Homo sapiens: one gene and its partners. The protein of the gene in region 2 purifies or fractionates together with the protein of the main gene of each other region. This does not show direct contact. Each region holds a gene or a part of one and is shown on either strand. Other genes may lie near its edges. The genes, in order: ACSF2, MAIP1, ATAD1, MCCC1, HDHD5, XPNPEP3 and SPG7.

Region 1 (4,285 bases), on a different chromosome or scaffold from region 2:
CTATGGCATCTCACCTTTCCCGGGAAGGCGAAGGAGGGCCCTTTGCTCCAGCTTGGTGTAACCTTGTCCCTGTCCTGCTGCCTTGGGATTAGGCTTGAGGTTGGGAAAAGGGTCTGGGGGATTTTAGGCTTACAAGAAGATCTGGAGGAAACCTAGTGGTCTCTAACACATTGTCAGCAGCCTACCCCCTGGCTTGGCTGGGTGTGCCATGCCCTTGGTTCCAGGGAGACTGATCTGGGACAGTCAAACCCATAGCTCCTCTCCCTACAGTTCCAGAGAGGTGGATCGCATGGTCTCCACGCCCATCGGAGGCCTCAGCTACGTTCAGGGGTGCACCAAAAAGCATCTTAACAGCAAGACTGTGGGCCAGTGCCTGGAGACCACAGCACAGAGGGTCCCAGAACGAGAGGCCTTGGTCGTCCTCCATGAAGACGTCAGGTTGACCTTTGCCCAACTCAAGGAGGAGGTGGGTCCTGACCTGGAAACCTCAAAGTGGGCAAGTACTAGCTCCCAAGCTGCCCTAGCTGGGCAGAACCAGGAGCGTGGGCACCTGGCTATGGGGCAATGTGCTAGGGCTGCCAGAGAACCCCGAGGGATGGCAGGAGAAGGAGACAGGACTGACGCACAAGGGGTCCAATGCCTCCTGTATCAGCAGCTCCTGGGGCACCTGTTAACTATGCAGGCCCCAGGGCAGACCCACTGAGGCTGGGAATCTGCCTGTCCCTTTGTCCCCAGTGACTGTGATGAGAACTCCGGGCTAAGGGCTGAGGGTGGGAGTCTTGGGCCCCTTCCTGCTTGCCCCCTTTCACCCCTTGCGCCCCATCTTTTACACTAGGTGGACAAAGCTGCTTCTGGCCTCCTGAGCATTGGCCTCTGCAAAGGTGACCGGCTGGGCATGTGGGGACCTAACTCCTATGCATGGGTGCTCATGCAGTTGGCCACCGCCCAGGCGGGCATCATTCTGGTGAGGAGGGGCTTGCTTGGCACAGCTTGGTGTGCATGGGGGAACATCACTGAAGGGGAGCCCCTCAGGCCCTCAGCCCCAGGATCAAACCAGTGCCTTGTTGGTTTCAAACCAGGTAGTGCTTTCTCCTGAGGCCCACCAAGGAGGTCTCTGGGAGTTAGGGGGCTGTAGAGTGCTGCCTCTATGCCTCCTGGGGGCGGAGGGGCAGCAGGAGGGACAGGGTCTGCCCAGAATACTGATATGCCCTCGCCGCTTCCACCAGGTGTCTGTGAACCCAGCCTACCAGGCTATGGAACTGGAGTATGTCCTCAAGAAGGTACAGCTCATTTGTCGGGGAGGGGCCCGGCTGGGGCCTGGCACAGGGGGCTGCACAGACTCTGCTTGTCAGAGTCTGACGGTGTGAGCTAGGGCATGCATAGGCGGGTGATACGCAGAGTGTCCTTCCTTAGGCCATGTGTGATTGGAAGGTGGCCCCAACTCCAAGGAGAGCGTGGTTGGTCAGACACAAACCTGGCGTGAGTGTGCAGGGACGGGGGCATGTGTGTGTCAGGGCAGAGGTGTGTGTGTGTGTGTGTGTGTGTGCGTGTGTCCATCCTCATATGTGATGCATATGTGTCTCAGGGTGTGGTGTGTGTGTCTCGGGGCTGGTACATGTGTGCATTTGTCTTGGAGTGTGGTGCCTGTGAGTGTGCTGGAGGTGTGTGTGTCAGAAGCGGGTGCATCTGTATGAGAGCAGCTGATTAGTGAGGACTCCCCCAGAGCTCTAGTCTGGGGCTCCCCGCTGACTGGAGGTGGGGGACTCCCCTTCCACAGGTGGGCTGCAAGGCCCTTGTGTTCCCCAAGCAATTCAAGACCCAGCAATACTACAACGTCCTGAAGCAGATCTGTCCAGAAGTGGAGAATGCCCAGCCAGGGGCCTTGAAGAGTCAGAGGTGGGTGTGTCCCAGGTTAGTGGGTGGTGCATCATTCAGCATCCCTGATTCCTTCACTTCCTACCCACCCTGCCCCCTCCCTCAGCCCCTGTCTCTCACCATCGTCCCCAACCCCAGGCTCCCAGATCTGACCACAGTCATCTCGGTGGATGCCCCTTTGCCGGGGACCCTGCTCCTGGATGAAGTGGTGGCGGCTGGCAGCACACGGCAGCATCTGGACCAGCTCCAATACAACCAGCAGTTCCTGTCCTGCCATGACCCCATCAACATCCAGTTCACCTCGGTAGGGCAGAGGTCTCCAGGCCCCAAGCCCAGATGGACACATGCCCCCTGTCCCTGTGACACTTCCGCGGGGATGGGGAGACAGCAGAGGAGAGCATGCCTTCTTTACTGAGACTGGCCTTCAGCTGTCCTCTCTGCCCTGGAAAATATCAGCACCTGGTGTCCTTGTCACATTTCCTCCCCTAGCCCCCCGCCCTCTCCACTCCAGCCCTCTTGTTCCCGGTGCAGTGGCAGATTCACTGAACCAACACAGGTTGGAACTGCTACAGGCTGCCCCTCATTTAGCTGATGAGGAATCAGAGACGCAGAAGAGAGAATTTGCCCAAGCCAGCTTGTGGGTGGCAGAGTTCTCTGGGCCATGTAAGTGGCATGAGAACGGAGACCTTATCTTCTGCATTGCTGGACCCTGACACCTGGTATCGTGGTAGACCTTTTGCAAATATACTGAACAGATGGATCTGGGGCAACAATCCCTGTCTCCTGATTCCCGGTCCCGTGCTCTTCAAGGCAGTGGCCCAGGGTGGGAAGGAGATGAGAAGGAGGCCAAGCCATGCCCTGTTTGCCTTGTCAGGGGACAACAGGCAGCCCCAAGGGGGCCACCCTCTCCCACTACAACATTGTCAACAACTCCAACATTTTAGGAGAGCGCCTGAAACTGCATGAGAAGGTGAGGCGGCACTAGGCCCAGGGCAAGGCTGCAGGAGGGGTGGCTCAGGCAGGGGTGGGGGGCTGGCTGGGCTCCCCTTGCCAGCTAGAGAGGAACTGGCGTCTGGCTCCAAGACAGACCCAGCCTCCTGTCTCCATCACCAGACACCAGAGCAGTTGCGGATGATCCTGCCCAACCCCCTGTACCATTGCCTGGGTTCCGTGGCAGGCACAATGATGTGTCTGATGTACGGTGCCACCCTCATCCTGGCCTCTCCCATCTTCAATGGCAAGAAGGCACTGGAGGCCATCAGCAGAGAGAGGTGGGCACTGGTGGACAGGCTACTTGTGGGCTGATAAAACCCTCTTCTTCCTCACTCCTGGGCCCTGACACCTTTCCAAGCTGCCTCCTCCCTCCAGCCAGGAGACTGAGGATGGGGACAGTGGAGGACCCCCAGGAGAGGACCAGTTCCTGCCTCAGGAGCTTCTCCTGCCTATTCCCTTTGCTGCAGTTTCATGGCGGGGTGGGTGAGAACAGGGAGTTCCCTTCCACTTCCAAGCCTAATTTCGAGACCTCCTCCTATACAGAGGCACCTTCCTGTATGGTACCCCCACGATGTTCGTGGACATTCTGAACCAGCCAGACTTCTCCAGTTATGACATCTCGACCATGTGTGGAGGTGGGGTGGGGCCAAGGGCAGCCAGGCTTGGGGAGGGGGCTGCTTCCCCCACAGGAATGGCCCGGGTGAGTTAGCTATGCTCCCAGTCTTTTATATAGGGGGCAAGAAGGACGCTGTAAAAATGTGGGTGGGAGGGAGGGAGATCCCCAGTGTCCCTGGACACCAGCCCAGGGCCAGCTGCCAGGTGTAGGAAAGGCTCGGGGTCAGAGGAGAAAAGGGAATGTTCCTCCCCTGAATGAGCTGTAGGTGAAAGGACTCCACTGGGCCTGGAGAATTGGGGAGCTGTGTCAGCCCTCTCTCTGATTCAGGTGTCATTGCTGGGTCCCCTGCACCTCCAGAGTTGATCCGAGCCATCATCAACAAGATAAATATGAAGGACCTGGTGGTGAGTGGTGACTGCGGCCCGGGCTGTGGGCAGGCCAGGCCTGGGATGACAGCAGATGGACAGACATGGGGATGAGTCCAGGCCAGATGTTCAAAGGAGACCCTCTCAGCCAGCCCTCCTTCCAGAAAGCAGATGTGAGAAAAGATAGTCTGACCTCATCAGCACCTGGTGGGTGAAGGAGATAGGTGGCAGGGGAGTAAATATAATACATACATACATTTATATTTATAGAAATCTCAGGAAGAAATTGCAGCATGGGAAGATGGACAGCAAAGCACCGATGTCCTGCTAGAACGTCCTGGCAGGTGGGGGCTGGCAGAGTTGGGGCATGGGCTTTAAAACCCTTTCTGGAAGCAAGGGGTGGGGCAAGGATCTGATGATTGTTTCCACGTGGCAG
Region 2 (3,803 bases):
CAGATTGGGTTAGAAGGCTCTTCTGTATGCTCCCAAGTCATCCTGTTCTTATCCCTGTCAAAATTCTTCAACTTGTCAGTTTACTTGTCCTTTTCCCATGTAGACTGAAAGTTCCCTGAAGACAGGTAGGATCTTAACTCACAGTTTGCTTTCTCATTGCTAGCAGTGAGGAGAATTGCAGTTGGGTTTTTCCCTCCTTGAAAATGGAATTTCATACTTCAAAGTTAGGATCTACTGTTTTAGACCACATAAACTAATGACCTTCTCTCCCACTTTCCCAAACCTACATTATCTCCCATACTGAGATTCAGACTACAGCCCAGATTTCCAGACTCCCAATGCAGTCTCGACTGTTCTCCTTTCCAACTGCTATCTATGCATGATTAAGAGGTAGGTCATATAACTGCCAAATGATTGTTTACTTCATCATTTTAAAAAGAAATATAAAGGAGGATTTTTATTGAGACATCTAGATTGTACACCACACACTATCATTTCCCGGTCCTGAGAGTGGATCCAGAATTAAAGGTCAAGTCACTTACTGCTATATATGTGGGAAGGCCATATATGAAAAGTCAACCAAGAGTCATGCCTTGATAAATTAATATTTGATGTTGTTTATCACTATTACCATAAAATAGTCTGTATTACACTTAGCCATTTAAATATGAACATGGTATGGTATTTTGAAATAATAATCCCCACACTTCCCTTAATATTTTTTTCAAGGCTTTTGCTCATGTATCCAAGTTGCTGTCACAGTGTAAATTTGATCTGTTGGAAGAACTTGTGGCCAAAGAGGTAAAGTATATTTTACATTTTGCTTTAAAAATAAATGCTATTCTCTTGCAATAGAATGATGCACATTTTCCTTATTTATGCTTAAAAATAGTGTGTGTGCCAGCATCCAAAGTAGAGTCTGTGTATCTGTTCTTATGGGTACTTTGGGTCATATAAAAGCATGGAATAACTCCTGCCACTTAAGGCATAATGAAGTAATCATGATGTCTTCCAATTGCTCTTATATGGAATGTTCTGTTAGGAATTACCTACTTGAATAATGAGATACATTTCAGCCTTGCTTTTGAGGATGAGTAAATACGGTAGTAAATTTAAAAATAGGTTTGGAAAAATGTATTCCATGATAAAGATCACTTTTTGAAAGTTTTCAAAAATTGTATCAGTGAACTAATGGCTTGCTTTTTTCAAACTTAGGTGCTACATGCATTGAAAGAAAAGGTTACTTCACTACCTGACAACCATAAAAATGCCCTTGCTGCTAACATAGATGAAATTGTATTTACATCAACAGGAGACATCTCCATTTACTATGATGAGAAAGGTAATACCAGAGCATAGTCAACTTGAAATGATCCATAATTGTCCAGATAAGCTAAACTAGTGGATAATCACAAAATAGTAGAGTTTTGTCAGGACAAGTATTTATAGAACTTCAAAGAAAATGTTATATCCATTCTTTAAAGACCTACTTCTGAAAGAGTTGAGATATGGTCATCATTTCTTAAGCCTTTCTATCTAGAACTTTTTTCTGCTACTATTTTATTCACAGTAGAGAACATCATCACTTACATTGATGAAAATAGTTTGAGTGGCTCCCACGTCTCAAATAGAAAATATTTATGTTTCAGATTTCCTAACTTGAAGGAAACAATTGAGTATTTTAAAGCTGCACTTTATATGGAAGGAATGAGGGGTAAAAGAAAATCAAATTAGATATTGTCAGCTAAAGACAATTTGAAAAGGTTAACTGCAGAACTCCCAAATTGGATCTATTTGAGAATAATGAAAAAAGTTGGTAGGAAATTTAGTGGTTATCTGGTTCTTCTTGTCTGAGGCATACATTTTCCCTATAGCATTCCTGATAATTCACTGTTTGTTCCTGATACATACAAAGTTGGCCCTCTGTATCTGGGGGTTTCGCATCCACAGATTTAACCAATCTAGGGTAAAAAATATTAAAAAAAAATAGTTGCATCTGTACTTGAACATGTGCAGTTTTTTTCTTGTCATTATTCCTCAATAATACAGTATAACAACTATTTACATTAGCATTTACATTGTGTTAGGTATTATAAATAATCTAGAGATGATTTAAAGTATACTGGAGGATGTGTGTTATGCAAATACTACACCATTTTATATAAAGGACTTGAGCATCTGTGGATTTTGGTATCCACAGGGGGGTCCTGGAACCAATCCTCCGTGGATTTTGAGGGATGACTCTATTTGCATATGTATTATGTGCCAGCCACACAGGAAATGGAGCCTCTGCTTATACACTTCCCAAGATGGAAGAAAAAGACTCTTAGTGATGATAAAATTTTTCATGCACACATTATTTTGAAATATTTGTAAAGATATTTTTAGTGATAAATATTTTCCGCTTCCCTAATATTTCAAATTGCATCTCAGCACCATGGTCACTAACTAATTTTTGCATCAGGAGTTTGTCAGAATCACCAGGCACAGTAAGGTGAATTGGGTAGAATAGGAAGCCTTTACTCTTTCTGGCAGTTGAAGTTAAGATAGTTACTGAGCAGCAAAAAATATTTTTTTTCTCCTCATTTTTGGTTTGACAACAGGTATCTGTCAGGAGATTATTATAATCTTAGAAAATGCCTGGCCAGATGTGGTGGCTCACACTTGTAATCCTAGCATTTTGGGAGGCTGAGGCAGGTGGATCACTTGAGCTCAAGAGTTCAAGACCAGCCTGGGCAACATGGCAAGACCCAGTCTCTACTGAAAATATGAAAAAATAGCCGGGCATGGTGGTGCGTGCCTGTGGTCCCATCTACTTAGGAGGCTGAGGTGGGAGGATCGCTTGAGCCTGGGAGGCGGAAGTTGCAGTGAGCCGATACTGCGCCACTGCACCCCAGCCCGGGTGACAGAGTGAGACTCTGTGTCAAAAAAAGAGAAAGAAAAAGAAAATGCCACTAATTGAAAATAATCCATGTAGTATACTTAGTAAAGTACGTGCTCAGTTAAGTAGTAGTTTTATTACTGAGATACAGAGAAGAGGGCAAGTATGCCATAAACCCTAAGACAATTTTCTAAAAATAAAATAGTATCAATACAAGTATTTTAAGTCACATCAGAATAAGCACAAAATTTGACCTGTAACAACTGTATAACTGCTGCCAATTTCTGATTTCATTTTGTTTATATGGATGATAGATTATTTTGATTTGTATTCGTATGTGTGTATATGTTTTTTCTCTAAGGAAGGAAGTTTGTTAACATCCTGATGTGCTTTTGGTATCTAACCAGTGCCAACATCCCCAGTGAAACTTTAAGAGGAGCCAGTGTATTCCAGGTTAAGTTGGGGAATCAGAATGTGGAAACTAAACAACTTCTTAGTGCAAGCTATGAGTAAGTTTAATCAGATTTCATTGTTTCCTTTCTTCAGAAAATGGAAGGTAGTGTGAAGGTATGAAAACTAAGAGATCTTTAGGAAGAAAAGAATTGAAATTTGACAAGTTATTTATGAAGAGAAAAGGTCAGAAAGACACACTGGATATGAAACAGGAGAGTTAAGAAATTAGAAAGAGGTAAAGTTGCTGAATTTAATTAAATGATGTTTTAGCTGTCTATTGCTGCTTAACAAACTACCCCCAAATTCATTGGCTTCAAACAGCCATTGACTTTGCCTGCTATTTCACTGCTCAGAAATTTTGGATAGGCTCAGTTAGGGGGTTTTCTCTGCTTCACCTGGCATCAACACGAGTGGCAGGAGCTGGAGGATTCATTTCCACAGTGACTTCTTAACTCGCATGGGTGGCACC
Region 3 (4,285 bases), on a different chromosome or scaffold from region 2:
GTTCTTATCCTTTTTTTTGGAGACAGAGTCTTACTGTCACCAGGCTGGAGTGTGTAACCATAGCCCACTGCTGCAGCCTCCTGGGCTCAAATGATCCTCCTGCCTCTGGGTCCTGAGTAGCTGGAACTGCAAGGCATGTACCACCATGCCTGCCTAATGTTTTAATTTTTTGTAGAGACAGGGTCTCACTTTGTGGCCCAGGTTGGTCTTGAATTCCTGGGCTCGTTATCCTCCTGCCTCAGCATCCCAAAGTGTTGAGATTACAGGTGTGAACCACTGTGCCCATCCTCTTCCTAAATCTTTTATTTGCATATAGCACTTACTAAGTAAAGCCATTACCAAAAACATCCGTCTTAAAAAGGAGTTTAAATTTTTAAGCCTCTATAAAGCTTAAGATAATAAACACAGTTTTTATTTGTTGAAGTTGGTTATAAAAGTATCAGATTAAGCTCAAAGAACTAATTTAAAGGTTGCAAAGCTAATAATAAAAGCTAAATGCCTCACATTCATTGCAGTACTCATTTGTCACCCATCGTAATTATTATCACTGTGGAGACCATTTTAGGAAAGTATATAGAAAAGGTGCCACTCTAAATAACGTTATCTCTAGACTCACTGATAATTTGTCAGACAAGCCAATCTGAATTTTAGTGTAACTTTTTTTTTTTTTTGAGACGGAGTCTCGCCCTGTTGCCCACCCTGGAGTGCAATGGCGCAATCTCGGCTCACTGCAACCTCTGCCTCCCGGGTTTAAGAGATTCTTCTAACTCAGCCTCCCCAGTAGCTGGGATTACAGGCGTGCACCACCATGCCTGGCTAATTTTTTATATTTTGGTAGAGTCGGGGTTTCACCGTATTAGCCAGGATGGTCTCGATCTCCTCACCTCGTGATCTGCCCACCTCGCCCTCCCAAAGTGCTGGGATTACAGGCGTGAGCCACAGGAATGGGGATAAAGCAGTTTACTGAATAACTATAAGGCTAACACACTTATGTAACTACTACCCAGGTCAAGAAGGGAATATTGACAGCTTGTGTACCTTCTCTGTTACAGCCTGTCCCCAGAAAGTTAGGATAGCCACAAGCTTTCTTTGCATATTGAATCTTTAGGCACTCCAGACACTCATAACTGCTCAGTTAATAACACTAATTGTAATCCTTGAAGAGGAAAAACTTAATCCTGCTAAAAAGTAACAAAACCGATCTACTAGAAGGGAAATATTCCAAGTGATAGATGAATAATTTGAATCAAACACAACACTCTAAAATCTCTGAATATGTTTATGAAGTGGTAGAGTAGCTACAAAGTCAACAAAATATGGAGGCTTTTGCATAAATACTTTGTTCTAAAAACCTTGAAATTTAGTTTTTAAGAAAGTACCAAGTGTAACAATATAAAAACCCAGAGATTTAAGTAACATGTGTATAAAAGTTTTATAATGGATATGCATTCTATATTAAATTATGTGATCAAAATGATGAAATTAATAATTCCAAGTATCTGCAAACAGGTGGTTTTAGATTACTATTCTTTATTGTTTCATATGAGCCATCCAAAAGAAAAATGTCAGTAGAAGATTCAAATTATAACTGACTTAACCAAATTTTAAGCACCTAAGTGAACTTAATTAAAATTTGCAGAATGCTTGAAAATACAATTAACATGTATTGGTAAAGCTTATGGATTTAAATTTAAAAGTCAGCTTTAGAAAAGTTTAGTTTCATATGATTAAACTTAGATTAGTTGCTGTTAGAACTTGAATCTTCAAGAATTATAAAGACCAGTAGAAAATTCTATGTATGCTTGAGGAAGAGCTTGAACATTATTTTGAAGTGTTTGATGTGAAAAATAAAATTGCTAGAGTTATGGAATCAGGTGCAGATTTCTTTTTTTTTTTAAATTGAGATATTTTTGGGAATTTTCATACAAAATTATTTTTCCTCTCATTTTGAATTTTATTTTTATTATATATAAGAAAATTTTGGACTCCTCCAGATCCCTTCCAGTTCACCCTAGCATGCCATCTATATAGATGGCATTTTAAAAAATACTGTTTCATAGGAAAAGTTGAGCTTTGAATTAAACAAATATTTTGAGAGGTCTGCCTATTACAGTTTTTGTTAGGGCTGTCTGTAGATGGTTTATTTTAATAACCATCTTAGTACTAAGTTTAGGTGCCAGATCATGTAGTACTGAGTTTAGTAATTTGGTAAAATTATAATTTTAGTATTATATATTTAGTATTATTATATATTTAATATTATTAAATTTAGAAAATGCTATCTCATTTTAGTTGAGAAACAGTTGGTGGTGGTTCCCAAAATGTTCAAGATCCCAACCTCTAGATCCCTTGTATTAAAAGTGTTACCTTAAATTGTATTTAGCAGCAAAATGCTGTTAATGGAGACCATAGGTTAATAATATAGTTTTATTCTTTGGAAATTAAAACAGGAGTGACTGATAATTTCTGTTTCTTTTAGGAAAAGATTGTTTGGAAAAAGGCACATGTCCTTTGGCTAAAACTTAATCTGTGAGCAACAGCAAAACAGTGTTTGCCACAATCTGTTTTGAAGTTGTTTACCTTCTGTAGGCTAATATCAAAGCACTATGGTGCATTGTTTGCTTGTGAAGGTGGAGGGCCTTAGATGATTTTGTTTTTCAACTGTTGATAAAGTGGTATGAATTTGGATGTCAAGGTGAGCATTTAAACTGAACCTTTTCATGAAGGGAGAGGGCACAGGATGCTGTAATCCCCAAATACATGCTCTTAACTGACACTGAGCTTAGAACATGGCATCTTCCTTTCTTCTATCTTACCTACTATAAACAAGATTAAATAAAAGCAGAATTGAATATTGGGAAAGTTTTTTGTGGAAGGAATTACTATTCTATTGATTATCATATAAATTGAAGCAAATATCCCCTTAAAGGTAATAAATAACATATTCATTTCCAGGTGTTCTTCTCTATGGGCCTCCAGGCTGTGGTAAAACGTTGATTGCCAAGGCCACAGCCAAAGAAGCAGGCTGTCGATTTATTAACCTTCAGCCTTCGACACTGACCGATAAGTGGTATGGAGAATCTCAGAAATTGGCTGCTGCTGTCTTCTCCCTTGCCATAAAGCTACAACCATCCATCATCTTTATAGATGAAATAGGTATGCTATGTTTTCTATATGAGTATTTTTAAAGGCCATTTTTAGAGATATTTAGATAACCAGATTTAGTTTTTAACATTTATTAGGCCATGTTAATAAAACAAAGAACATAACCAACATCATAATATGCTATGTATAATTTCTGTGTTGTAGAATGAACCATAGACTATATACTCCCCTACTTGATAGATAGGTTTTTCTGTCTTTTCTCTGTTACAAACAGTATGCAGTAGATATCCATGTACATGTTTTCTCATGTATATATGTTTGCCCGGGAAAGATACCTAGAAGTTGAATCATTTGGTTGTGTGATATATCTATCTTCAACCTCACTAGGATTACCAGTTCTTTAGTTATTATACCTATTTATGTTTTCCTGCTTGGTAGTAAACTTGGGCATCTTTTAGCATGTTGATTAGCCATTTGGGTTTTCTTATTTGTGAATTGTCAATATTTCTTTGGAGTTATTTGTAGTTTTCTTTTGTTGATGTTTATTATGATTACACCTATTTTCTAGTCTATCTTTTTTCTGATAGTTTTTTTTTTACAGTTTATTATTTGGCTATAGTCAGTATTTTTCCTTTGTGGTTTATACGTTTTGTATCTGGTTTACAAATACCTTCACTATCCCCATAAATGTTCTCTTTTTAAAAATTATATATAACATGAGATAGGAATCTAATTTCATTCTTTTCCAAAAAGACAGCAAACTAGACTATCCTTTGCTGTATGTCATGACTTTTATATTAATGGACTCTTGCTATATTATGGATCAATATTTTTGTTCTGTTCCTGGTACGATGTATATATAAATATATATAGTTATACTAATACAGTATTATTAGTATTGGATATATATTTATATAGCTTTATTACTGTAGTTTTGAATTATATTTTATTATTGTTAAATTTAGTATGATAGGCTATGTAAATATGTAGAGAGAAAAATAGATACAAATATGTAGTATAGCTTTGTTTTGGTTACTTGTTTGCTTTATGTATCTTTTCTCATCAATTTACTCCAGTTATTTTGGTGTTTTGGTGTGCATCTTGAACAGAGGAATATATAGCTAGTTTATTTTGTTTTTGTTTTTTTTTAAGACAGCATCTCACTCTGTTACCCAGGCTG
Region 4 (3,175 bases), on a different chromosome or scaffold from region 2:
TCTTTTTATTTATGTTTTATTGTTTATATTCATGGTTTGCAACATGATGTTATGAGTATATATAGACAGTAAAATGGTTACTATAATGAAGCAGATGAACATATCTAGGACCTCTGTGTTTTCAAATATTAACCTGTCACACTGAATCTCAAGGTGTTTGTCAAAGCTGGAGACAAAGTGAAAGCGGGAGATTCCCTCATGGTTATGATCGCCATGAAGATGGAGGTAAGGAAATCATGAGTTCATTTGCTATGAGGACTTTGGGAGCAATCATACCTAATGGTTCTTTTGCCTTATTTTGTAAGTTAATACCACCTTAAATATGAAAAGCCATGATTGACGAAGCATTAATTGTAGGAAACAAAACCAAACTATCCTTCTTGTAGAAAAGAGTTTTACTTTAACTTTGTGAAATTGCACCTGTCATTTCTGATTCTGAAATTAATGAAATTATCAATAGCTTGGAATCAGGCGATAATCCAACTGAATGTTAACTGTTGGTATTTTCTAAGATAATCCAACTGAATGTTAACTGTTGGTGTTTCTGGAATGTTAACTGTTGGTATTTTCTAATGTTAACTGTTGGTATTATCTTGGTTCTAAGGCCGAACCAAGGATGCCAGGCATCAGTTTCAAAGTGAAAACCGCAATCAAATTAAATTAGCTGTTTAGGTTTTTAGATGGTTCAAATGGTAGGTCAGTGATTCTTAGCCCTGGCTGAATATTGCAGACAGTCCTCAACTTACAATGGTTCAATTAAGGATTTTTCAGCTTGACAATGGTGCAAAACCATACACGTTGAATATGCTCCTCAGCTTACATTGGATTTATCTGGACCTGACCCCATCGTAAGTCAAGGAGCATGTGTACAGTCACCTGGGGAGATTTGAAAAAATTCTTCCCCAGACCCATTGAATTGCAATCTCCAGGAGTAGAGCCCAAGGATCAATACTTTTGAAAGGCTGGGCGCAGTGGCTCATGCCTGTAATCCCAGCACTTTGGGAGGCAGAGGCAGGCGGATCATTTGAGGTCAGGAGTTCACGACCAGCTTGGCCAACATGGTGAGACCCCATCTCTATTAAAAATACAAAAATTAGCCAGGCATGGTGGTGCATGCCTGTAATCCCAGCTACTCAGGAGGCTGAGGCAGGAGAATTGCTTGAACCTGGGAGGCAGAGGTTGCAGTGAGCCGAGATCTTGCCACTGCACTCCAGCCTGGGTGACAGAGCGAGACTCCGTCTCAATTTAAAAAAACAAACAACAAGGCCAGGCGCAGTGGCTCACGCTTGTAATCCCAGCACTTTGGGAGGCCGAGGTGGGTGGATCATGAGGTCAGGAGTTCAAGACCAGCCTGGCCAACATAGTGAAACCCCGTCTTTACTAAAAATACAAAAATTAGCCAGGTGTGGTGGCACACACCTGTAGTCCCAGTTACTTGGGAGGCTGAGGTGGGAGAACCGCTTGAACCCGGGAGGCAGAGGTTACAGTGAGCTGAGACCATGCCGTTGCACTCCAGCCTGGGTGACAGAGTGAGACTCCGTCTCAACAGCAACAACAACAAAAAACAAAAAAAAAAAAACAAAAGCAAGCAAACAAAAAACTGTTGAAAGCTTCCTAGGTGCAATTCTCATGTGAAGCTCAAGTTGAGAACTGCGAGCTACACCAGAGCTTCCCAGTCATATCGTTGAAAGGTTACTGCTGTGTCCCAGTGTTCATTCCTCTCAACTTGTTACTGTTCTCCCTGTGTGCTGTGATGTTAAAAATAAAAACAACAACAACAACAAAGCGTTGGAAAGCACCGAGAGATGACAAAACATCAAAGTTGGCTACAGTTTTCATTTTTGGTCTCCCTTTCTTGACTTGGTGTATACTCAGTCCTCATTAGTATTGCAGCTATCATTTGTCCTGTCATGTGTCTCTGCAGCATACCATAAAGTCTCCAAAGGATGGCACAGTAAAGAAAGTGTTCTACAGAGAAGGTGCTCAGGCCAACAGACACACTCCTTTAGTCGAGTTTGAGGAGGAAGAATCAGACAAAAGGGAATCGGAATAAACTCCAGCAAGGAAATGGCCAGTTAAGTAGTGTCTTCTCTCTCCACCAAAAAGAGGAAGTGCCTCCAGCTTTTCTGGGGGTCTCATAAAGAGCAGTTTTACTAAATGATTGTATGCTTATGCTGAACACCTTTCATATTGGAGAATCATGCATTTGGGTCACTAATTATCTCAAAATATTTCATACTAATAAAGTTGAATTATTTTTTATTGGAAGCCAATGTTTGTTTCTGCCTCAAATTTTTTACAAGGTAGTCTCTTTTAGGAAGGGGGGAAGAGAAAAGGACATTTAATTAAATGAATTACTTTCCAGTTGCTGTTATGATGAAAATGAGCAGTAATATGTTTCAGAGACAGGTGCCCTGGAGTTCAACAACTAAGGTTTTGTCTGGCCAAAAAGCAACTTGCTAGGTAGTTTAAAAGACATGGATATTAGTCGGGCGCGGTGGCTCACGCCTGTAATCCCAGCACTTTGGGAGGCCAAGGCGGGCAGATCACTTGAGTTCAGGAGTTCGAGACCAGTCTGGCCAATATAGTGAAACCCGTCTCCACAAAAAATAAGCTGGGTGTAGTGGTGAACATCTGTAGTCCCAGCAACTTGGGAGGCTGAGGCAGGAGAATCGCTTGAACCTGGGAGGCAGAGGTTGCAGTAAGTCGAGACCGCACCACTGCACTCTAGCCTGGGTGACAGAGCGAGACTCTATCTCAAAACAAATACATAAATATAAATAAGTAAAGACACGGATATTGTTTCTAGTGTTTGTGATTGGAAAGTTTCTAACTAGATTGCCTCTGCCTTTATTGTACTTTCTAAGCTTATAAAAATATATGTATTATATATCTATTACATGCTAAAATATATTAATATTTAATATAACATTTTGGTAAATTTGAAAAGCATAATTTTACAGAAAAAGTTGGTAAGAGTTAAAAGCCTGAGCCTGCTGAATGCTTTTTTTAGAAATACTTTTTTCATTATGAAGAAAAACCATTCAGTTTACTTTTGTCTAGATTCTGTGTTACTTTTACTAACAGATGTGCAGCCCTTTGCATTTTTATGTATTCATTGAAGTGTTAAATATTTGTTGAATTGAGTTCTTGCTGAATACATAAGACTATGCTA
Region 5 (4,285 bases), on a different chromosome or scaffold from region 2:
CTAACCTCGTGATCTGCCCTCCTTGGCCTTGCAACATGCTGGGATTACAGGCAGCTTTTTTCTATTAAAAAAAATTACAGGTGTGCACCACCACGCCCGGCTAATTTTTTGTATCTTTGGTAGAGATGGGGTTTCACCATGTTGGCCAGACTGGTCTCGAACTCCTGACCTCATGATACGCCCGCCTTGGCCTCCCAGAGTGCTGGGATTACAGGCGTGAGCCACAGTGCCCTACCTTAAAAAAAATTTTTTTTTTTAACTTTTGTTAAAAATGAAGACACAAACACCTACTAGCCCAGGCCTACATAAGGTCGGGTCAGGTAATTGATATCACTGTCTTCTGCCTTCACACCATGTCCCATTAGAAGGTCTTTAGGGGGCAGTCATATGCATGGAACTGTCATCTGCGATAACAGTGCTTTCTTCTGGATATCTTCTGAAGGACCTCTCTGAGGCTCTTGAGGTGTCACTCTTATCAGAAATATGTCCATTGTGGTTTGCTTGGTTTCTTTTTTTTTGTCATAGGTTTGCTTGTAAACAGATAATGTACCATAAACATTCTTCTCTAGTAATGAAAACCTTTTGGCGTTGGAGTTCATGTTTCAGACTTTTTAAGGAACTTGAGGTCTGTAAAAGCTGCTGAACCCTTCACTGTGAATTTTCTTGGATGTTCTTTTCTTTCTGTGGCTACCTTTTCTCTTGCCTCTTCTTCAGCTATGAGTTCCTGTTCCATTATAATCTTAAGGGACCATTGTATATGCAGTGTGTCATTGACTGAAACATCGTTATGGTGCGTGACTGTATTACCATCTTGCATTAGTGTGGTACATTTGTTATAATTGATGTACACCTTCACTTTTTATGGTACTGGGTGCCTGGTTCTCTGTGTACATCCTGAAGGTTGGGGAGGGGTTGGAGTGATGGGTGAGGGAGCCTTATGGATATTGCTCAATTTTCCTGAAAACTTTGCTGTTCTAAGTAGCAGGGGCTATGGATTCTTATTTTTAAGAAAGCAGATCTTGGGCCGGGCGCGGTGGGTCATGCCTGTAATCCCAGCACTTTGGGAGGCCGCGACGGGCGGATCACGAGGTCAGGAGTTTGAGACCAGCCTGGCCAATATGGTGAAACCCCGTCTCTACTAAAAATATAAAAAATAAGCCAGGTGTGTTGGCGCGCGTCTGTAGTCCCAGCTACTTGGGAGGCTGAGGCAGGAGAATCACTTGAACCCAGGAGGCAGAGGTTGTAGTGAGTCGAGATTGCACCACTGCACTCCAGCCTGGGTGACAGTGAGACTCCGTCTCAAAAAAAACCAACCAAACAAAAAAAAAAAAAAAAGGAAAGCAAATCTTGTGACTGTTTAGGCAATGACCGTTAAAACTATGTATGGTAAATTTTGCAACCATTGTACAAATGAGCTGTTTTTTAACTATGTAAGTTTTCAAAAATTCAAAAATGGGGAATAATATGAACCCCTGTGCCCATCTCCCAGATTGAGCAATGATTAACATTTTTCAACACCTGCTTTGCTTATCTCCCTCCTCCTTTTTTTGTGGCTCTAAGATTTTAAAGTAAATCTCTGATTTCTTGTCATTTCAAACCTAAATTCTTCTGTGTGTACCTCTAAGAAAAATAAGGACATTCTGGCTGGGTGCCATGGCTCACACCTGTAATCTGAGCACTTTGGGAGTTGGAAGGATTACTTGAGCCCAGGAGTTCCAGACCAGCCTGGGCAACATAGGGAGACCCTGTCTCTACAAAAGAAAAAAAAAAAAAAATTAGCCAGGCATGTGGTGGCACATACTTGTAGTCCCAGCTACTTGGGAAGCTGAAGCAGGAGGATCCTTTGAGCTCAGGAGGTTGAGGTTGCAGTGAGCTGAGATGACACTAGTGCACCCAGCCTTGGTGACAGAGTGCGACCCTGTCTTGTCTCAACCAAAAAAAAAAAAAAAAGAAAATAAGGACATTCTGAACATAACCACGATGCCAGTATCATACCTAACAACATTAGTAATTCCTTAATATCACTTAAAATCTAGGCCTTTTAAAAATTTATTTATTTATTTTTTGTTTTTATTTATTTATTTTTTGAGATGGAGTTTCCCTCTTGTTGCCCAGGCTGGAGTGCAACGATGTGATCTTGGCTTACTGCAAACACCATCTCCCGAGTTCAAGCAATTCTGCCTCAGCCTTCCGAGTAGCTGGGATTACAGGCATGTGCCACCACGCCCAGCTAATTTTGTATTTTTAATAGAGACAGGGTTTCTCCGTGTTGGTCAGGCTGGTCTCGAACTCCCAACCTCAGGCGATCTGCCCACCTCGGCCTGCCAAAGTGCTGGGATTACAGGCGTGAGCTACTGTGCCCAGCCAAGTTTCTTAAAGAAACACTGTTTCTTAAAAAAATTGTTGGCTGGGCGCGGTGGCTCACGCCTGTAATCCCAGCACTTTGGGAGGCCGAGGTGGGCAGATTGCCTGAGGTTGGGAGTTGGAGACCAGCTTTGAGACAAGACTAACCTGGGGAAACCGCATCTCTGCCAAATACAAAAATTAGGTGGGTTTGGTGGTGCGCACCTATAGTCCCAGCTACTTGGGAGGCTGAGGTGGGAGGATCGCTTGAGCCCAGGTGATGGAGGTTGCGGTGAGCCAAGATCACGCCACAAAAAAGTGTTGGAATCACCCAGTCCTTAAGGGACTTACTTTCTAAGAGCCACTCTTTTCCTTCAGAAAGGGATAGGGTGGTCGGGAAGTATCTATTTCTCCCTAACCATTTATCCTTTGGGTCATTCAGCATCCAGTCAGCCTTTGTCAATCACCTGTGAGTCTAAGCACTGTGTCAGGTATGGGGGTAAAGGGCAAATCACATCCCCTCCTCCCTTTAAGCCCAGGTAGTGATTCTCCTTGAGAAGAATAAGAAAATGAAATCCGAAAAGTGCTATGGTTACTTTTCCCAGGAAAAATGCTTGTAGTGTTTAAAGGGGATTTATGGCCATCCTGAAATCTATCTGTGGGCCTAGGTTAGGACCCCCATTCTAGTGAGATTTCTTGGGGAATAGGGAGGGGCTCCAGGGATCCTTGAGGGTACATGAGTGTATTGAGGAGAGAGAAGAAATGGAACTCACAGCTGGGAGCTGGCAGGAGGTGGGGGAAGCAGTCCTGGGGTCCCCTGTTTTCTCTGAGGTGCTGCCGAGTTGCCAGCTGAATTTGAGACTGAATCCTGAATCCAGCACTTGTGAACTGGGTGACCCTTGCTGAGTTCTTTTTGAGGTTGATGCCTTATTTGTCCAGTCAGGTAATTTAGTGCCTGTATATTGAACACCTTGTATAAACCGGCACATTTTGCCAGGCAAGGCCATTTGGAGATGCTGACACTTCCTCAAAGGGCTGCCAAAAAGAATACATAAAAATGCCTTTGTTACATGTCTGGCTGAGTGCTTGGGACAGTGACAGGTCTGGGTGCAACAGCATAAGCCTGTGAAGCCAAGGGTTAGAGGCACCATTTGTCCAGGCATTTCCTGTGTGGCGTGTGGGGCTTGGTCAGTTTTCTCTTGGCAGCTGTTTTTTGGTGTTCAGGTGTGATATCTTGTTGGCTCGAGTTGCTTCCTCCTGTTTTTCCAGGGTCCCTGCCCTCCTCCTGCTTGGCTCTGTAGCTGTCATTGTCCAAGCTTGGAGGGCTCATGTACAAGCTAACATGGAGGAGGAGCTGGAAGATTGCCTCTCCCGGGGGTCTTGCCTGTTCAGTGGAAAGAAGATGGGATCATTACAGCCACTCCAGTCCCTGTTTTACTGGACCCGAGACATACCTCAGCTTCCTGGACCCCACACGCTCTTGGTTTTCCTCCTTGCACTGTCTTTTGCTGGCAGGTCTTGTGTGGTCCATTATTAAGTAGTATTGTTCTTCCTGGTTCTCTGAGAGGCGAGACCTTCCAAAATTTTCATCTCCAGGACCTGTCCAGTGCTGATGTCTCCACTTGCCTGTCTCCCAGGTCCAAAGTGGGACTTAACCTTGTATCCTCCAATGACCTCTCGCTGCCCGCTCCTACTGTGCCCTTTGGTTCAGTGACTCATACCCGCATCCACCCTCCCGGGTTCCCAGACCAAAATAAAAAAGCATGGGAGTCCGTGTGGCTCCCTCTTCCCTCCACCCCTGTATCTGGATGGTTACCAAGTCATGACTGTTCTGTCTCTGATAATGCCCCCTGATCTCCATTCTTACCACCACTCTCCCAGGTAAATGCTCCATCTTCTCTGTCTTGGGTTGCATTTGGTCCCACCTGGTCTTTCAGTTAAC
Region 6 (3,953 bases), on a different chromosome or scaffold from region 2:
TGGTCTCTTACATTTAATAAAGCTGGGACTTGAAGACTTACCATAGTTTTCAACTGCCTTTGCAAGTTCATAAACTTCTAAGGGTAAAAAGTGAATAAGATAAATTCAGAGTTTTAAGGTAAAGGCTTTATATTAGCTTTTTTTTTTTTTAAAGGTTTTTTGTGGGGTTTTTTTGTTTTTTTTTTTTTTGAGATGGAGTCTCGCTCTGTCACCCAGGCTGGAGTGCAGTGGCACGATCTTGGCTCACTGCAACCTCCATCTCCCGGGTTCAGGCAATTCTTCTGCCTCAGCCTCCTGAGTAGCTGGGACTACAGGCGCGTGCCACCATGCCCGGCTAGTTTATTGTATTTTTAGTAGAGATGGGGTTTTACTGTGTTAGCCAGGATGGTCTCAATCTCCTGACCTCATAATCTGCCCACCTCAGCCTCCCAAAGTGCTGGGATTACAGGCGTGAGCCACTGCACCCAGCCTTTTTAAAGTTTTTAATTGACATATAATTGTACGTATTTACAGGGTAAATAATGATGTTTTGATACATATATAATGATCAGATCAGAACAATTAGCATATCCATCACATTGAACATTTATCATTTATTTGTGTTGAGCCTTTAGTTCTTTTTTTTTTTTGAGATAGAGTCTCACTCTGTCACCCAGGCTGGAGTACAGTGGTGTGATCTTGGCTCACTGCAACCTCCACCCACCGGCTTCAACCAATTCTCCTGCCTCAGCCTCCCTAGTAACTGGGATTACAGGCACCTGCCACCACACCCAATTTTTGTATTTTTAGTAGAGACGGGGTTTCACCATCTTGGCCAGGCCAGGCTGGTCTTGATCTCCTGACCTTGTGATCCACCCACCTCAGCTTCCCAAACTGCTGGGATTACAGGCATGAGCCACGGCCCCCAGCCAGAGACAGTCTTGCTTTGTCGCCAGGCTGGAGTGTAGTGGCGCCATCTTGGCTCACTGCAACCTCCAACTCCCTGGTTCAAGCAGTTCTCCTGCCTCAGCCTCCCAAGTAGCTGGGATTACAGGCACGCACCACCATGCCCAGCTAATTTTTGTATTTTTAGTAGAGACAGGGTTTCACCATGTTGGCCAGGATGGTCTTGATCTCCTGACCTCGTGATCTGCCCACTTTGGCCTCCCAAAGTGCTGGGATTACAGGTGTGAGCCACCGTGCCCAGCCGAGCCTTTAGTTCTAAGTATAATAAATAATATATATACCAGGCATTCCTATTAAAAATCTTAACTTAAAAAAAATTACTCAAATGTTACTACTGGAATTTTTCTCCCTGAATTGAAGATACATGGTTAGATCATTAACAATACCACCTAAATGAAGGAAACATATCTGGATATCCAGTGTCACATACTTTTATGTATTTATTTCAGGAATTACTATTTTGTCACCATAATTAGGAAACAGACTGTGTTCTTTATTTGAAACACAACAGTATAAATACTATAGTAAAGTTGGGTGCAGTGGATCACAGCTATAATCCCAGCACTTTGGGAGACCAAGGAGGGATGGTCACTTGAGCCCAGGAGTTTGAGACCAGCCTAGGCAACATAGAGAGACCTTGTCTCAACAAAAAAATTTAAAGTTAGCCAGGTGTGGTGGTTTGCACCTATAGTCCCAGCTACTCAGGAGGCTGAGGTGGGAGGATCGCTTGAGCTTAGGAGGTCAAGGCTGCAGTGAGCCATGATTGTGCCACTTCACCCTGGGCAACAGAGAAAGACCCTGTCTCAATAAAAAAGAAGAGAAAAACTGGAGTGAGAACTCTCCTCCTCTCATAATCATAGTATCCACGTTAGGAAAATGCTTCTGAGAGTAACTTAAAGTACTGTGTGTGCATCTTCCTTCAAAACCTTGCTTTTTTCTCCGTTTTTGTAAGGTGAGAAAGGGAAAAACCTTCACCGTAGAAATACTGTCTTGAGATTAAGATACAAATAAAACATGTTAAACCTCCATCTAAAGACATTGCAACTTATTAAAACAGAAAAATGTACCTTTGTTATGTCTTTCCAAATATCCACACCCACACCCTGTTCAGCTTTGTTAATAATACAGAGATCAGAAATGTGAAGCACAAATGCTGCTTCTCCCCCTCCTGTTCCCATGTCAGAGATGGAGAAGAAAGCACAGTGAGCTGTTCACCAGTCCAGCGGTGACCTCGGAGTCCTTTGTAACAGTGTTTCCAATAACTTCTGCCAATAAAACAGAATTTGAGTTAGAACCTATCTGCTGTCCCTCAACTAGTGTCTGATAGCTGAGAATGTAATTCGTTTGTGTGTCTATTAGAAAATTAGGCAGGCACCACAGACAGTAGCAACATAAAGGAACCTGCTTAGAAGAGGTTTTTATGGTGTGATTGTGTTTTTTTTTTTTTAATTTTTGTTTCCTGAAGTAGAATCCATAGCTCAAAACAAGTTTTAAGCCTGAGAAAATATAATTTGAGGTGTTTTTTATGCTCCTAATGAAAAGATGAATGAATGCATCATTAAACCTTAACAGTAGAGCAGAATTTCACTGTTACAAACCACATGGGTTCTCCTGGTTGTGCTGCTGTTCTCTACCTGTGTGTCACTGAGTTTGAGCATCATTATTGTTTGAATCAGAGGACCCACTGGAATCAAGGCTTCTTGGAATTGCGCAAGAATCTGAGAAAACTTCAATCTTTACCAGCATTTCTTAATGCTTTCCATGACTTTTGTGCAATTATATAAGTTCAGTTTAGACAAAATGCTGTTACTTTTTAAGGCATTACTAATAACTGAAAATAGTTACGTCATTGCCCATCAAGGGAAAAGCACTTGTAACTGTCATTTAAAAAAAATAAAACTATAAAACAATATAGAGGGGTATGGTGTGTGTGTGTTACTTTAGAATCTAGAGTTTACGGTCTATTTAGTATAAACAGTATAAACGTGAGACCATCTGGTTTTACAAAATAATTTACAAAGTATTCATTAGCTGCTGTCACAAAATCATGATAGCAAACTTGAAATGATTTTATCAGTCTTATAGAGGAAGAATCTGGTGGATTTGATCCAGCCTATTAAAAGGTTGGCACAAAACTGACTGAAAGGTCTCCAGAAAGTCCCCATAACACTCAAGACTGTAAACTGTAGCCATGCACATTTTATGAAGGATGAATTTTGTGGGGAAATAGGATCAAGTTGCAAAATTATGAATATTTGACCTTTGTCAACCATATAATGAATCGTAAGTGTAGCCATCTCTCTCTCCCTGTTAGGAACCATCTTTAAAATCTGAGACTGTCTATGAGGAGTACCTTTAACATTTCTCACGTTCTGGCAGGCACAAAAAGATACTTTGTATGGCACAATGGAACAAATTTGAGGGGGCTGAGTGGTAAGTACATATGACTTGTAGAAAAAAAATTATTATACATCCTTTAACTATGATAAGAAAAATATGTACAGTGAGCCACCATGGCTGACCAACAAACATGAAATTTCTTATAATGGGAATGGATTTCTAATCCAGTTGAAATATTTTATATCAAATATTTCAAAATAAGCTATAATTTGCAGCATATACATGTATTGTTAGAACAGTCACCCTGCTCACAGACTCCACTAAGAAGTACTTCATCCACAAAAGTCGTAAGTATCCAGCATATGTAAAGCAGAGATCTGGGCTGTCTGAGGCTGCATCTGGAAGCAGCCCTGGCCCAGTCTTGAGCCCCCATGACACCTATGGCTAGCAGCCCTTACACATCTGAAACACCAACCACTCTAGCTAAATTCCATGACATCCTTGTCTTTCATGTGACACTGTGCTCAACAGCTGCCACTGAAGTAGATGACCAAATGGTAACACCTCTCCTTCTCCATATTTCAGTGAGCTCTTGAAAAATAATTCTACATCTTATGACCCTAATTTAAATACCCTAATTGAAATATCATTTAGGGTATTTAAATTAG
Region 7 (4,285 bases), on a different chromosome or scaffold from region 2:
GGACCGATGCGCAGATTAAAATGGTTGTGGAAATGGGTTCTCTCGTCTCATTCTCGCTGACTGTGCTTTTTCATGAAAGCTTCCCAAATGGTCAGACTGAGTGTGCAGATGCCGGAGATCTAGCCAGCCTTGTGACAATAACAACGTTCAGGTTTTTCTATTTTCAGTATATTTTGTTTTCAAATGTAAGCGATCAGCTTCAATCAGGCAGGCAAGATCAGCCTAAGAGTAAAAAGCAAATCTCAGGCCGGGCGCGGTGGCTCACGCCTGTAATCCTAGCACTTTGGGAGGCCGTGGCGGGTGAATCACAAGGTCAGGAGTTTGAGACCAGCCTGGCCAACATGGTAAAACCCCATATCTACTAAAAAAATACAAAAATTAGCTGGACATGGTGGCATGCGTCTGCAATCCCAGCTACTTGGGAGGCTGAGGCAGGAGAAATGCTTGAACCTAGGAGGTGAAGGCTGCAGTGAGTCAAGATCGTGCCACTGAACTCCAGCCTGAGCTACAGAGCAAGACTCCATCTCAAAAAGAAAAGAAAAATGTAAGAATAAACCCTGTGTCTACTAAAAATACAAAAAAACTTAGCTGGATGTGGTGGTGTGCATCTGTAGTCCCAGCTACTCAGGAGGCTGAGGTGGGAGAATCACTGATCCTGGGAGGTCGAGGCTGCAGTAAGCTGAGATTGCACCACTGCACTCCAGCCTGGGCGACAGAGTGAGACCCTGACTCCAAAAAAAAAAAAAAAAAAAAGCAAATCCCAGGACTTTTGCCCTCATCCTGAGGAGGGGCTGCCCTGGGCCTGCCCCAACCCTCCATCTTCTGTACATCATCAGCCTACAAAGACACGAGAATGGGCCTGCCCCAACCCTCCATCTTCTGTTCTGTACATCATCGGCCTACGAAGACATGAGAATGGGCCTGCCCCAAACCTCCATCTTCTTCTTTTTTTTTTTTTTTTGTTTGAGATGGAGTCTGGCTCTGTCACCCAGGCCAGACTGCAGTGGTGCTATCTTGGCTCACTGTAAGCTCCGCCTCCCGGGTTCACGCCATCCTCCTGCCTCAGCCTCCCGAGTAGCTGGGACTACAGGCACCCGCCACCGCACCCGGCTAATTTTTTTTGTATTTTTAGTAGAGACGGGGTTTCGTCGTGTTAGCCAGGATGGTCTCGACCTCCTGACCTCGTGATCTGCCCGCCTCGGCCTCCCAAAGTGCTGGAATTACAGGCGTGAGCCACCGCGCCCGGCCCAAACCTCCACCTTCTGTCCATCATCGGCCTACGAAGACACGAGAATGGGCCTGCCCCAACCCTCCATCTTCTGTACATCACTGGCCTACAAAGACATGAGACACACAGCCTCAGAGCAGTGATCTTCCAGGTGTTGCTGGGTTATAGAATTAAAGGTGCATCTTTTTTTTTTTTCTGTAGAGATGGGGTTCTCCATGCTGCCCAGACTGGTCTCGAACTTGTGGGCTCAAGAGATCCTCCCTGCCTCAGCCTTCCAAAGTGCTGGGATTACAGGCATAGCCACTGCACCCGGCTAGAGGTACATTTTGATCAAGGGAGTACTTGCCAGTCACTGGCATTCTACATCTTCAGAGATTACAAGTCAACAATAAACCTCTGTTTCAGTACCCGCTGGCCCCTCATTTGTCCTACTAAGGAACCTGTCAGGGTCCATGGTCCATACGTGCTGACAGCTCCCACCTGGTCTGTTTCCCTCTCAACACTGAAATGAGAATTTCACCTTCCTGTGTCTACCCTTTTCCCGTTCCATTTTCCTGTCTGTAGAAGAGAGCAAGCCCAGGACATTATCACGGTCCTCCTTGACTTTCTTTCTTACTGCTAGGCTGATCTTGCCTTGCTAACTGAAAGTGATCGCTTACTTTTGAAAACAAAATATACTGAAAATAGAAAAAGCTGAACGTTGTTATTGTCACAAGGCTGGCCAGATCACTAGGTATCTCCGGCATCTGCACACTCACTCTGACCATTTGGGAAGCTTTCATCAAAGAGCACAGTCAGTGAAAATTATACAAGAATGTGAATTCAGAAGCGCCACACAACTAAAGAAAGTGACTAAACAAACTCCAACGGACTTGCACACGGTTGGCCTCCACAGCCACAGGTTTCATCTCTGCAGGTTTAACCAAGCACAGAATGAATGTATCTGGGGAAAAACGTGCATCTATACTCAACATGCACAGACACATTTTTGTCATTATTCCCTAAAGTATAACAACGATTGAAATAGTATTTACAGGGTATTGGGTATTATTATCAACCTACAGATGATTTAAAGCATATCAGAGAATGTTCTTAGGTTACACACAAAGATTTCGGCATTTTACACCAGGGGCTGAGACTTCGCCATCCTACGTCGGGGGCTGAGACTTCGCCATCCTACGTCGGGGGCTGAGACTTCGCCATCCTACGTCGGGGGCTGAGACTTCGGCATCCTACGTCGGGGGCTGAGACTTCGGCATCCTACGTCGGGGGCTGAGACTTCGGCATCCTACGTCGGGGGCTGAGACTTCGCCATCCTACGTCGGGGGCTGAGACTTCGGCATCTTACGTCGGGGGCTGAGACTTCGGCATCTACATCAGGGGCTTAGACTTCAGCATCCTACACCAGGGGCTTAGGCATCCTCAGGTGCTGGTATCCTTGGGAAGTCCGAGAACCAGCCCCCATGGATACCCAGGGATAACTATATTTCCAAATCTCCTGGCATTGTATCATTCACTTCTATATTTATTTAACCCTCCCACTAAAAAGTCTAGTTAACTATAGGCAAAGACAGTTTGAGATTTTTGATTGCAATCTGTTTCTCAGATTACAAAGCCAAGTTAGGTTTAGTTCAAGCATCAACAAATACATCCAACATACTTTCCAAAGAATCCTGTTCGCTTGTAGGAAACTGGGATCCTGTCCTTGGCCTCGATATTCAGCTCATCTTCAGCTGCTCGAAGCTTCTCTTCAAACTTGTCAATATTTGCAACCTGCATTCGGTACATCAAGGCTAGCCGCTGGGGGGCAGAAAGGAGAGGGGACCATGAGAAACGCAGGGACAGACGAGCAACCCTACAGTCAACAGAGAGCCCGCCTGGAACTCATGGTAATGACAACCTCAGCATTGTGAAGAGGACACCATTCAGAAACTAGAGGTGATTCCTAACGTACGACGGTTCCACTTACGGTCTTTCCATTTTACAATGGTGTAAAAGCAATATGCACACTAAGCTCCTTGACCTACGATGGGGCTACCTCCCAGTGAGCCCCTGGGAAGCTGAAAATATCCTAATTCAAGGAACATCTGTACTTCCAAGTCTAAAAAATTTGTTTCCTCAACCACAATTTGAGAAATAAAATTTCAACAGATAGACTTTCTATTTTCCACTCATAGGAAAACTAAGAAATGGAGGGATGTCTGCAAGTTAGCTCACAGCCCCACGTCTGATGTGTGCCTCAGACTCAGCTACACCTGCAGACACAGCAGGAGCCCCCCAGAGGCCGGCGAGGCTGCAGCACGGGACTGAGGATGGCAAAATCAAGACTACGGCCAAAAACAGATGTTTTAGGAAACTGCGGCCACAGAGGGTTCATGTTTAACCACAAAACCTGAGACTGTTCATCCCTCACACCAGGACACCAACAGGTCCGTCTCCCTGGCACACGATTCTCCAAACGCAGCGTTTTCCTAAGTAAACTCCGCATGTTTAGCTCAGATTTCAGCATGACTGGACGGCAACACCCCAAAGGGAGGACACAGACGGACTTGCGGGACTCTCTTTGAGGTTAACTGGAAACTCCAGCAGAGGACAGGGATGAGGGGTGGGGATGGCACCTGCTGCTCCCTCACTCACACCCCAAACTGCTAAGACAGAATTCTGAGCATTTTCTCTTTAAGGCAGCTGTTTTATCAGGTGACTCGTCTAGAGCTGAGCATAGTGTTGTAGGTTAAAATAACCTTCCAGACTGAAATAATCAGGCATCCACCAGAGGATTTACGTGAATGAGCACCGTCTTCTGCACTTAGCCATGGTGTATTTTAAGAACAAGGTTTCCTGTTTTTAAAAATAGCAAGACAGCGCCAGGCGTGGTGGCTGACGCCTGTGATCTGGCACTTTGGAAGGCCAAGGTGTAAGGATCACTTGAGGCCAGGAGTTCAAGACCAGCCTGGGCAATATAGTGAGACCTCATCTCTCCAAAAAAACAAAAAATTTAAAAATTAGCCAAGTGTGGTGGTGCGCGCCTGCCATCCCAGCTACAGGGGAGGCTGAGGT

The links.
Region 1: the proteins of MAIP1 (region 2) and ACSF2 purify together in Homo sapiens (affinity purification with mass spectrometry; one large-scale study listed by BioGRID and IntAct). This does not show direct contact.
Region 3: the proteins of MAIP1 (region 2) and ATAD1 purify together in Homo sapiens (co-immunoprecipitation; one large-scale study listed by IntAct). This does not show direct contact.
Region 4: the proteins of MAIP1 (region 2) and MCCC1 purify together in Homo sapiens (affinity purification with mass spectrometry; one large-scale study listed by BioGRID and IntAct). This does not show direct contact.
Region 5: the proteins of MAIP1 (region 2) and HDHD5 purify together in Homo sapiens (co-immunoprecipitation; one large-scale study listed by IntAct). This does not show direct contact.
Region 6: the proteins of MAIP1 (region 2) and XPNPEP3 purify together in Homo sapiens (affinity purification with mass spectrometry; one large-scale study listed by BioGRID and IntAct). This does not show direct contact.
Region 7: the proteins of MAIP1 (region 2) and SPG7 purify together in Homo sapiens (affinity purification with mass spectrometry; one large-scale study listed by BioGRID and IntAct). This does not show direct contact.

The regions. Positions count from the first base shown.
Region 1 is NC_000017.11:50,460,407-50,464,691, forward strand, and holds part of ACSF2 (medium-chain acyl-CoA ligase ACSF2, mitochondrial isoform 2 precursor), read left to right. Parts: intron 1-270; coding exon 271-466; intron 467-835; coding exon 836-964; intron 965-1,226; coding exon 1,227-1,280; intron 1,281-1,777; coding exon 1,778-1,896; intron 1,897-2,013; coding exon 2,014-2,179; intron 2,180-2,749; coding exon 2,750-2,845; intron 2,846-2,988; coding exon 2,989-3,146; intron 3,147-3,411; coding exon 3,412-3,503; intron 3,504-3,811; coding exon 3,812-3,888; intron 3,889-4,089; exon of another isoform or gene 4,090-4,119; coding exon of another isoform or gene 4,120-4,193; exon of another isoform or gene 4,194-4,285. UniProt on the Homo sapiens protein: Acyl-CoA synthases catalyze the initial reaction in fatty acid metabolism, by forming a thioester with CoA. Has some preference toward medium-chain substrates. Plays a role in adipocyte differentiation.
Region 2 is NC_000002.12:199,958,539-199,962,341, forward strand, and holds part of MAIP1 (m-AAA protease-interacting protein 1, mitochondrial isoform 1 precursor), read left to right. Parts: intron 1-729; coding exon 730-801; intron 802-1,215; coding exon 1,216-1,342; intron 1,343-3,242; coding exon 3,243-3,390; intron 3,391-3,427; exon of another isoform or gene 3,428-3,569; intron 3,570-3,803. UniProt on the Homo sapiens protein: Promotes sorting of SMDT1/EMRE in mitochondria by ensuring its maturation.
Region 3 is NC_000010.11:87,783,341-87,787,625, reverse strand, and holds part of ATAD1 (outer mitochondrial transmembrane helix translocase), read left to right. Parts: intron 1-2,955; coding exon 2,956-3,156; intron 3,157-4,285. UniProt on the Homo sapiens protein: Outer mitochondrial translocase required to remove mislocalized tail-anchored transmembrane proteins on mitochondria.
Region 4 is NC_000003.12:183,014,316-183,017,490, reverse strand, and holds the end of MCCC1 (methylcrotonoyl-CoA carboxylase subunit alpha, mitochondrial isoform 1 precursor), read left to right. Parts: intron 1-153; coding exon 154-225; intron 226-1,924; coding exon 1,925-2,053; 3' UTR 2,054-2,273; downstream 2,274-3,175.
Region 5 is NC_000022.11:17,152,282-17,156,566, reverse strand, and holds part of HDHD5 (haloacid dehalogenase-like hydrolase domain-containing 5 isoform 2 precursor), read left to right. Parts: intron 1-4,285.
Region 6 is NC_000022.11:40,929,959-40,933,911, forward strand, and holds the end of XPNPEP3 (xaa-Pro aminopeptidase 3), read left to right. Parts: 3' UTR 1-2,857; downstream 2,858-3,953. UniProt on the Homo sapiens protein: Catalyzes the removal of a penultimate prolyl residue from the N-termini of peptides, such as Leu-Pro-Ala. Also shows low activity towards peptides with Ala or Ser at the P1 position.
Region 7 is NC_000016.10:89,525,072-89,529,356, reverse strand, and holds part of SPG7 (mitochondrial inner membrane m-AAA protease component paraplegin isoform 1 precursor), read right to left. Parts: intron 3,029-4,285; coding exon 2,889-3,028; intron 1-2,888. UniProt on the Homo sapiens protein: Catalytic component of the m-AAA protease, a protease that plays a key role in proteostasis of inner mitochondrial membrane proteins, and which is essential for axonal and neuron development.